3 linked regions of the Homo sapiens genome follow. The protein of the gene in region 2 interacts with the protein of the main gene of each other region in a pairwise test. Each region holds a gene or a part of one and is shown on either strand. Other genes may lie near its edges. The genes, in order: FLT3LG, LAMP2 and CASP6.

Region 1 (3,652 bases), on a different chromosome or scaffold from region 2:
AACAAACAAACAAAAACCTCTCTCTGAGGGCTGGGTGCAGTGGCTCACACCTGTAATCCCAGCACTTTCGGAGGCCAAGGTGGGAGGATTATTTGAGCCCAGGAGTTCAAGACCAGCCCGGGTAACACAGTGAAACCTCATCTCTGCACAAAAATAAAAATAAATTAGCCAGGCATGGTGGTGCCCACCTGTGGTCCCAGCTACTCAGAAGGCTGAGGTGGGAGGATCACTTGAGCCCTGGAGGTCGAGGCTGCGATGAGCTATGATTGGGCCACTGCACTCCAGCTTGAGCGACAGAGCAAGACCCTGTCTCAAAACATAGAATAGGCCGTGTATGGTGGCTCACGACTGTAATCCCAGCACTTTGGGAGGCTGAGGCGGGTGGATTGCCTGAGCTCAGGAGTTCGAGACCAGCCTCGGCAACGTGATGAAAACCATCTCTACTAAAATACAAAAACAAAATTAGCCAGGCATGGTGGTGGGCACCTGTAGTCCCAGCTACTTGGGAGACTGAGGCAGGAGAATTGCTTGAACCCAGGAGGCAGAGGTTGCAGTGAGCCGAGATCACACCACTGCCCTCCAGCCTGGGCGACAGAGCAAGACTCCATCTCCAAAAAAATAAAAATAAAATAAAAGCCTGGGTACAGTGGCTCACGCCTGTAATCCCAGCACTTTGGGAGCCCGAGGCGGGCAGATCACGAGGTCAGGAGTTTGAGACCACCCTGGCCAATGTGGTGAAACCCCGTCTCTACTAAAAATACAAAAATTAGCTGGGCATGGTGGCGCGCGCCTGTAGTCCCAGCTACTCAGGAGGCTGAGGCAGAATTCCTTGAACCCGGGAGGTAGAAGTTGCAGTAAGCCGAGATCGTGCCACTGTACTCCAGCCAGGGTGACAGAGCAAGACTCTGTCCCCAAAAAATAAATAAATAATAAAGTAACTTTGGGAGGCCGAGGCGGGCGAGTCACCTGAGGTCAGGAGTTCGAGACCAGCCTGGCCAACATAGAGAAACCCCGTTTCTACTAAAAAATATAAATAAATAAATAAATAAATAAATAGGCTGGGCACGGTGGCTCACGCCTGTAATCCCACACTTTGGGAGGCCGAGGCGGGCGGATCACAAGGTCAGGAGATCAAGACCATCCTGGCTAACACAATGAAACCCCATCTCTACTAAAAATACAAACAATTAGCCGGGCGTGGTGGCAGGCGCCTGTAGTCCCAACTACCTGGGAGGCTGAGGCAGGTGAATGGCGTGAAACCAGGAGGCGGAGCTTGCAGTGAGCCGAGATTGCGCCACTGTACTCCAGCCTGGGCAACAGAGCGAGACTCTGTCTTAAAAATAAATAAATAAATAAATATGGCCAAGCACGGTGGCTCATGCCTACAATCCCAGCACTTTGGGAGGCCAAGGTGGGCAGATCACCTGAGGTCAGGAGTTCGAGACCAGCCTGGCCAACATGGAGAAACCCCGTCTCTACTACAAATACAAAAAATAGCTGGGCATGGTGGTGGGCACCTATAGTCCCAACCACTGAGGAGGCTGAGGCAGGAGAATCACTTGAACCTGGGAGGCAGAGGTTGCATTTCACCACTCCAGCCTGGGCAACAGAGTGAGACTCTATCTCAAAAAAAAATTAATTAATTAAATAAATAAACTCTGAGAGCCAGAGCTCACTGGGCCCTGTTGCTGGGCATCGCCAGCAGGGAAGGGCCTTTGGCCTGCGGAGGGGCGGTGGGGGGATGACGTGGTGGTGACGTCTCCCTCCCCTGCTCCCAGCCCCCCCCCAGCTGTCTTCGCTTCGTCCAGACCAACATCTCCCGCCTCCTGCAGGAGACCTCCGAGCAGCTGGTGGCGCTGAAGCCCTGGATCACTCGCCAGAACTTCTCCCGGTGCCTGGAGCTGCAGTGTCAGCCCGGTAAAGGCTTCCAGGCACCCCCACTCCTTCCCCTCCTGTCCTCACGGCCGCTCCTCCTCTCTGCACAGTGCATCCCAGACCCCATCTTTCTCATATTGGTTGTGACAAGGGCAAGCTTATTCCTCTTTCTGGAGCTCAGTTTACCAATTTTTTTTTTTTTTTTTTGAGACGGAGTCTCGCACTGTCGCCCAGGCTGGAGTGCAGTGGCGTGATCTTGGCTCACTGCAAGCTCCGCCTCTCGGGTTCATGCCATTCTCCTGCCTCAGCCTCCCAAGTAGCTGGGACCACAGGCGCCCGCCACCACACCCGGCTAATTTTTTGTATTTTTAGTAGAGACGGGGTTTTACCGAGTTAAACCAGGATGGTCTCGATCTCCTGACCTTGTGATCCACCTGCCTTGGCCTCCCAAAGTGCTGGGATTACAGGCGTGAGCCACAGTGCCCAGCCTACCTTTTTTTTTTTTTTTTTTTTTGAGATGGAGTCTTGCTCTGTCCCCCAGGCTGGAGTGCAGGGGTGCTATCTCGGCTCACTGCAAGCTCTGCCTCCTGGGTTCACGCCATTCTCTTGCCTCAGCCTCCCCAGCAGCTGGGACTACAGGCGCCTGCCACCTCACGCGGCTAATTTTTTTTTTTGTATTTTTAGTAGAGACGGTGTTTCACCGTGTCAGCCAGGATGGTCTCGATCTCCTGACCTCGTGATCTGCCCGCCTCGGCCTCCCAAAGTGCTAGGATTACAGATGTGAGCCACCGCGCCCAGCCTATTGTTTTTTTTTTCTAAGTCGGAGTCTTGCTCTGTCGCCCAGGCTGGAGTGCAGTGGCGCAATCTTGGCTCACTGCAACCTCCATCTCCAGGGTTCAAGCGAATCTTCTGCCTCAGCCTTCCGAGTACCTGGGATTACAGATGCGCATACCATGCCTGGCTAGTTTTTGTGTTTTTAGTAGAGATGGGTTTTCACCATGTTGGCCAGGCTGGTCTTGAACTCCTGACCTCAAGTGATCCACCCACCTTGGCCTCCCAAAGTGCTGGGATTATAGGCGTGAGCCACCGCGCTCAGCCTATTCACTCATTTAATTTGTGACAGTCTGATGAGGTAGGTACAATGATTATCCTAGTTTTACAGATGAGCAAACTGAGGCACAGAGAGGCCAAGCAGCCCATCCAAGGTCACACAGCCAGTGGCAGCCAGGCCTCTCTTTCCTTCCTTACCCCAGCCCTTCTCCTTGGTCACCCAGCCTCCTCTTTCTCCCCAGACTCCTCAACCCTGCCACCCCCATGGAGTCCCCGGCCCCTGGAGGCCACAGCCCCGACAGCCCCGCAGCCCCCTCTGCTCCTCCTACTGCTGCTGCCCGTGGGCCTCCTGCTGCTGGCCGCTGCCTGGTGCCTGCACTGGCAGAGGACGCGGCGGAGGACACCCCGCCCTGGGGAGCAGGTGAGCAGGCTGGGAAGAGGGGGTGAGGGGGCCGAGAGGGTGGCCCACTTGTGGCTGACACTTTGGGGCCCACAGGTGCCCCCCGTCCCCAGTCCCCAGGACCTGCTGCTTGTGGAGCACTGACCTGGCCAAGGCCTCATCCTGGTGAGTCCTTCCTGGGCTATGGGGCCTGGACTTTGTGTCTGCAGGTTGGGAGGGTCACTAGGAGGCCATGGAAGGGTGGTGAGCAGTGGAGGGGCAGGGGCAGCTCTAGGTGCAGAAAGACCCCTCTGGGGCCAGGCGCGGTGGCTCACGCCTGTAATCCCA
Region 2 (3,652 bases):
TTACAATGGAAAGTACCTTATCAGTGACTAGAACACATCTGACCAAGGCATCTGTTAATCAGTAGTTCCCTGCCAATTGAATCTGTGCACAAATACAACACTGTTATTGTTTTGGGAAAGTGAAAAAAATAATAGTTGTCCTACTTGTTGGCTTTCATGTCATTAAATTTTTTTTTGTTTTTTAATGAAAGCTTTTTTGTTTTGTTTTTACAAAAGCAATGCTTACTCACTGCAGAAAATAAACATGCAAAAAGAAGCACATAAAAGAACCCATCAGCTCATCTGCTAGTTTGCCATTTATTGATCAGGACTAACTAGATTCTTCCTCTTGGAAAATTTCCAAGATTGATTCCCTCCGCCTCCAAGTTCAGAGCAGGATTTGGAAAAGTAAATATTAATAATGTACCTAGATCTGATTTTTAAGAGGTTCCAGGATGAAATAGAAACCATTTTTCTATACAGCTGCATTTTCTGATGGCTCTTGGTTCAGTGTGGAGCCCAAAGTCCTCCCATATAGCTTTTTCTGTCAAGAATTTAGCAGTTGCTTGGTGGGTTTTGCACAAGTTACTTTTCTATATCAAAATGGATACCAATAATAGGTTTTTGAAAACTTAATAAATATTTGTAAAGTACCTAATATGTAGCTAAATCAATAAATATTTGTAAAGTACCTACTATGTAGCTAGAACTGTGCCTGGGTACTGTACGGAGTGCCAATGAAGGAGGACCTGTCCTAAATTTATAGTCTTATTAGCATTAGTGCTCTAGCTGTGCCAGTTTGACTTTGTAACTTTATAACTCTATCCCAGCTTCACCCATAACCTTTTAAAAACAGCAGCTTTAGAATAAGTACAGAAAAGGATTCTTAGAGGCTATATATTGGTCTTTTTCATAGAGATTAAATTATGCTGGTGTTTATTTGGATGAATTGTAACTGACCAGACAACTTTCCGAAGAGAAGCTATATGATTTAGAGGTGTTATAAAGTGGATAGTGGGTGAAAATCCTTTCTTTATATAATTGCCTAATTATGGTCCTTTTGTGATATCATAGATTTCAGGATTCTTCTGTGGTTATTGATTCTTATAACTAGCTTGACTTCTGTTTTTTGGTTTGTTTGTTTGTTTTTTTAGGGTTCAGAATTTTTTTTTTTTAGGTTTGAGGCTTTTCTGGGTGGGAAAAACCTCACAGAAATATTCTTAGTGTATGTTACTGGTAGGAGCCTCTCCCTTCCACACGTTTACTGAATGCCTATTGTGTCCCAGCCACTATATTAGGTGAAAGGGACAGAGGAATGGATAAGACAGATGAGGTTCCTGCTCTCATGGAGCTTACATTTTAATGGGAGAAGAAAGCTCAACAGATAAATAATATAATGTCAGATAGTGATAAACACTATGAAGAGGCCGGGCATGGTGGCTCACGCCTGTAATCCCAGCACTTTGGGAGGTCAAGGTGGGCAAATCACCTGAGGTCAGGAGTTCGAGACCAGCCTAGCCAACATGGTGAAACCCCATCTCTACTAAAAATACAAGGGCATGGTGGCCAGCACCTGTAGTCCCAGCTACTCGGGAGGCTGAGGCAGGAGAATTGCTTGAATCCAGGAGGTGGAAGTTGCAGTGAGCCGAGATCATGCCACTGTCCTCCAGCCTGGGGGACAAGAGCAAAACTCTGTCTCAAAACAAAACAAAACAAAAACACTATGAAGAAAATTACACAGGTAATGAGAAAGGAGAATGAGTAGATGATAGGAATGGGTGATGGTGGATGATCCTTCTTTATATTATGTGGTCAGAGGGCCTTCCGTTATCGGGTGACATTTGGGCAGAGACCTGGGTGTTGGCAGGAGGCCAGCCATGTGACCATCTGGGGAAATAGGAATAAATCTTATCATTTGCAAAATCTTAGGTTACTAGCCTATTTTCCACGCTTTTTTGTTTCCCCCTAGTTTTAGTCAAGTCTCTCCTATGGTAGCAGTCTCTAAGAGCAGAGACGATCTTATGTACTGTTACTTCCCATTGCCTACCTAGCATAGGGTCTGGTACATGGTTAACCCGTAGTGAATTTTTGTTGAAGATATTCATTGGTGGGCACTAGGGATATGGTGGTAAACTAGACTCATTTAGTCTCCTTTTTCTTCCATGAATTTTAAATGATGTTTTGCAAGAAGTTCTTTTGGATTGAAAACTTCAAGATCAGTGCTAAGCAGTACGGATAATTATACAGTAATTTACTAATGTATAATCCCATATAATAATGCTAGTTTCTTACCTGTACTCCTTCAGATATACCTCCGTAGTCTCGAAGGGGGTAATATGGAGAATTAGGAGTTCCTTGGTGAGGAGAGTTAGGTTTTCACAAAGTTAGGTTTTCTCTGAGAGAAAACAAGCACTAAGATTTTTCTATAGGCTTAACACATTTCATTTAACTGATAACTTTGATTTCGAGGTTCTGCCAAATTATTCTAGTTATAATAGAGATACTGTAAAGGACTGAAAAATTCTGAACCCTAAAAAAAAACAAAAAAAAAACGAAAAACAGAAGTCAAGCTAGAAGATAAGAAAGGACAGGCTTGTTAGTTTGTTAGTCATTGATTATCACATCTGATAGGGTTATAGATATTCAAATATGTCCCAAATACCAGATTAGTTTGTTAGTCATTGATTATCATATCTGATAGGGTTATAGATATTCAAATATGTCCCAAATATCAGATTGTCACATCTGATAGGGTTATAGATACTCAAATATGTCCCAAAAGAACAGCTTTCTTCCCCTATATCTTTGGGTAGATTTTGTCTATAACCAAGCATTATTTCGTAGCACTGGAGCTGATTTAAATGACCCTTGATGCAGGAAGGCTGCTCTTCTTTCTGTAGTGCAAAAGTATTCTGATCATAATTTCTTATTAAAGTGATCAGAGATCCCCTCAGACCCAAAAGTATACTTTATAAGTACTTGTTGGTATCCTGCTGTGCATTGTGAAAGAATTCTGGAGGTGTGCCAAACACTGCTCAACAATAAGCACTTTCCATTAGTTGAGTAGTGTTGAATCTTGTTTCCTTACCCACTCTTTGGCCTTAACAAATTAAGTCATTTTATAGCTTAAAAACATATTTTTATTAACTTTTAATACTCTTTTTCATGTGTTCAACATTCTTACTTTAAAATCATATTGCTTTTCTCCTTTAAGAAACTTACCAAAAGCAAGGGTATAAAGTAACTGAATGCAATGAGTGTACCTATTATTAGGAATTATAAAGGAGAAACAGTTAATCTGACTTAAACTTGTAGGAAAACCATCACTCTGAATAGAAAACAAAGATAAATAGGTACCGTATGCCTCTGTGTCCTGTATTTTAAAAAGACCTTTTGCTCAACATCATTCTAAATTCATGAGTTTGAGGACAAGAGTCCAGAATTTAATATGATGAAAGTAAACATAAAGCTAAAACTTGGGAAGGTTCCCTTTAGGTGCTGTGTTTACTAAAAAGGAGACTTGTAAATTGGTATCTAACTTGTTTGGCAAATTTCTTTTAGCTCTGAAGGGTTTATATGCTTTCAAAGAACCTATTGGAGAAATATGCACTATAATTCTAAACAAGGGTAACTTGCCCAAAGTCTCACAGCTAGGAAGTTGGACTGCCAGATT
Region 3 (3,652 bases), on a different chromosome or scaffold from region 2:
GTTATTTCATGTCCTCCATGCTATTCATGGAAATACAGAATTGTGACACTGGCATGTCAGGTTTCTCTTTTGTAGTTCAAAATCTTTGGCCGGGCACAGTGGCTCACGCCTGTAATCCCAACACTCTGGGAGGCCAAGGCGGGCAGATCACCTGAGGTCAGGAGTTCAAGACCACACTAGCCAACATGGTGAAACCCCATCTCTATGAAAATACAAAAATTAGCCAGCCATGATGGCAGGTGCCTGTAATCCCAGCTACTCGGGAGGCTGAAGTGGGAGAATAATTGAACCTGGGGGCGGAGGTTGCAGTGAGCCGAGATTGCACCATTGCACTCCAGCCTGGGGGACAGAGCGAGACTCCATCTCAAAAAAAAAAAAAAAATCGTTAATGATGTGCCAAGTAATATTCATGCAAAAAAAAAAATTTTTTTTTTTTTTTAGACAGAGTCTCGCTCTGACGCCCAGGCTGGAGTGCAGTGGTATGCTCTCGGCTAACTACAGCCTCTGCCTCCCAGGTTCAAGCAATTCTCATGCCTCAGCTTCCCGAATGGCTGGGATTACAGGCACCTGCCACCATGCCCAGCTAATTTTTGTATTTTTAGTAGAGACAGGGTTTCACCATGTTTGCCAGGCTGGTCTTGAACTCCTCAGGTGATCTGCCTGCCTCGGCCTCCCAAAGTGCTGGGATTACAGGTGTGAGCCATCACGCCTGTAAAAAATACTTTTATCCCTAAAACCAATTTGGCAGCGGGGAAACAATCTTGGTTTAAGGGGCAATGTGAAAGGGATGAGACAGGATAAGACTAGAAGGCTTTATTTTTCCATTCTTTCCACTGGTTTATATGCTCTCCACCTCCCAAAGAAGCAAACCTAGTCTGATGAGGTTGCCTTGTGCGGCACTCTTCAATCAGCAGGTACGCTTTCCAATGGCTCTCCTTGGTATCAGGCTCGGACAGGGAGTAGCACATTGGTTACTTTGTGAGTCACTTCAAATCTCAATCCAAATGCTGTTATTTTGTAATATAGACAATGAGAGTGTCAAAGAATTATTACTAACAGCTCAAAGTGCAACTATGATTGGCCAGAATTCAAAAACGGCCTGTCCAATTACTGGAGAAAGTTACTTTCAAAACTGGCTTTTAGACCTTTATCACATGTTCAGAATGACAGACTTTATAATTAAGATGATAATGTACTCAGTCTTACCTGAATGATAAATATCTTGGGTTTTCCAACCAGGCTGTGACACTTGTCTCCTTTGAACAAGCCAGTTAATGTCTGAATTTCGATTTTAGCATCATATGCATAAATGTGATTGCCTTCGCCATGGCTCAGGAAGACACACACAAAGCAATCGGCATCTGCGTGGCTAACAGTTGACACTATAAAGGACCCAAAAGAGAATATAGAAATGAAAATATGATGCTTGTTATCTACACATAAAAATTCAGTTTATTAACACAAGAATAAAGTTACATCCACATGATTGGGGAGGAGGAAAATTTGTGGTTTTGTCTTTTTTGTTTTTTTGAGACAGAGTTTCACTCTTGGTGCCCAGGGCTGGAGTGCAGTGGCGCGATCTTGGCTCACTGCAACCTCCACCTCCCGGGTTCAAGCGATTCTCCTGCCTCAGCCTCCCAAGTAGCTGGGATTACAGATTTGAAACCATATCCAGCTAATTTTTGTATTTTTAGTAGAGACGGGGTTTTGCCATGTAGCCAGGCTAGTCTCGAACTCCTGACCTCAGGTGATCCACCTCGCCTCAGCCTCCCAAAGTGCTGGGATTACAGGCATGAGCCACCATGCCCGGCCTACTCTTTAATAAGTGTAAAATATCTGTGATGAAACAACTTAGTCTTTAATCAAACAATATACCGTACTGTATCTTATTTTTTTAAAAAAATCCAAATTTATTAAAGTTCAGAGTAATAGAGTTTGACCAAATTTCATTAGCCTTTCTAAAACACAGAATGATGTGGAAAACATAAAGGGATTACGATAGGGAATCTCACTTAAGATCCAAGTTATTTTGGCAATAAACTAAAAATTTCCTTGAATCAGCAGAGACCTTAGAGCAGAGTGGAAAGACCCAGAAACTGCTGCTCAACAGCTCCCCACGCATTGCTGCACTTTCACTATAGGAATACAGCACTTAGGGCCAGGCGCAGTGGCTCACGCCTGGAATCCCAGCATTTTGGGAGGCCGAGGCAGGTGGATCACTTGAGGCCAGTGTTCAAGACCAGCCTGGCCAACACGGTGAAACCCCATCTCTACTAAAAATACAAAAATTAGCTGGGCATGGGGGCGAGCTACCTGGGAAGCTGAGGCAGGAGAATTGCTTGAACCCAGGAGGTGGAGGCTGCAGTGAGCTGAGATCACACCACTGCACTCCAGCCTGGGGCGGACAGCGAGACTCCATCTCAAAAAAAAAAAAAAAAGATTATAGCACTTAGAGCTTCCAAAAGAGTACTCAAAGCCAGGTGCGGTGCCATGAGACTGATGTCCTCCAAAGCTTCTGAGCAAAGTAGAAAAGCTGGTAAAAGCAGCCAAAGTTAGAATGATGTGCAGTTTAAAGAAGAGCTCTGAAGAAAGTTTAAAGTAATTATGCAAATATAATGGTTGGCATGCAGCGATGATTATAATATAGGTTGTTATAATTAGAATACCTACCCCCTATTGACGCTGTGAGAATTAAAGGAGGTAATGTATGTAAACCAACACTATTTGGAAACCAGTGAGAAAATGAGGCATGAAAGGAGTCAATGAGAAAATGAGCCTGTTGACTGCCCAGCACCTGTAGTACTTGCATTTTAGGCTTTTACTGCCAATTGAAGGGGTCATTTCATTCATTTCTACAAGAGACTGTAACTAGTGGTATGCTAAATATAAACTTTAGAGGCATAATTATTTGCAAGGGTCTCTAAATGTGCTGGGTAACGGAAACACAGCAGCATACCCAAAACCTGTAACCTGTGCTAAATTAATACTTTTTTTGTCACACAAGTAATTACTTGTACCTGTCTTTACAGATAGGATAAAGGACTCGGTTTCATTAGAGGAAGATGAACTATATGATAGCAAAACTACCTACCCTCATGAATTTTGAGCAGTAGTTCTTCTGCTTTAAGATCATTAAAGCATTTCACTTCAAATCCTAGATCTGAAAACCTAGTGGTATATTAAATGAAATGTTAGCCTATAAACTTTTCAAAGTTGTCAAATACCCTTACTTTGGAAGAATCTATACACATTTTAACGACACATAAATTTGCTTTCTTTAGGAGAAAAGAAATGAAATATAACAATGGTGGTTTTCCCTTCATTCACCATGGTCGGAAAGGATTTAATCATAATGACAGCCGATTCAATTTAGAGTGTTGTTGTCTACTATGCAAATGTTAGTACAAATGCAAAAGCCTGTCAACATTTAATAGAACAGAGTAAGGAAAATAACTCAGGCAAGTTTTTTTTTTTTTTTTTTTTTTGAGACAGAGGCTCACTCTGTCGCCCAGGCTGGAGTGCAGTGGCTTGATCTTGGCTCACTGCAAGCTCCGCCTCCTGGCTTCATGCCATTCTCCTGCCTCAGCCTCCCGAGTAGCTGGGACTACAGGCTCCCACCACCACGCCCGGCTAATTTTTTGTATTTTTTAGG

Evidence for each region.
Region 1: the proteins of LAMP2 (region 2) and FLT3LG interact in binary tests that used the Homo sapiens proteins (3 or more experiments, as listed by UniProt).
Region 3: the proteins of LAMP2 (region 2) and CASP6 interact in binary tests that used the Homo sapiens proteins (3 or more experiments, as listed by UniProt).

Annotation. Positions count from the first base shown.
Region 1 is NC_000019.10:49,477,131-49,480,782, forward strand, and holds part of FLT3LG (fms-related tyrosine kinase 3 ligand isoform 1 precursor), read left to right. Parts: intron 1-1,778; coding exon 1,779-1,917; intron 1,918-3,167; coding exon 3,168-3,346; intron 3,347-3,421; coding exon 3,422-3,469; coding exon of another isoform or gene 3,470-3,490; intron 3,491-3,652. UniProt on the Homo sapiens protein: Stimulates the proliferation of early hematopoietic cells by activating FLT3. Synergizes well with a number of other colony stimulating factors and interleukins. Required for the development of B cells, and dendritic cells (DCs).
Region 2 is NC_000023.11:120,462,795-120,466,446, reverse strand, and holds part of LAMP2 (lysosome-associated membrane glycoprotein 2 isoform A precursor), read left to right. Parts: intron 1-3,652. UniProt on the Homo sapiens protein: Lysosomal membrane glycoprotein which plays an important role in lysosome biogenesis, lysosomal pH regulation and autophagy.
Region 3 is NC_000004.12:109,693,319-109,696,970, forward strand, and holds part of CASP6 (caspase-6 isoform alpha precursor), read right to left. Parts: intron 3,169-3,652; coding exon 3,092-3,168; intron 1,383-3,091; coding exon 1,207-1,382; intron 1-1,206.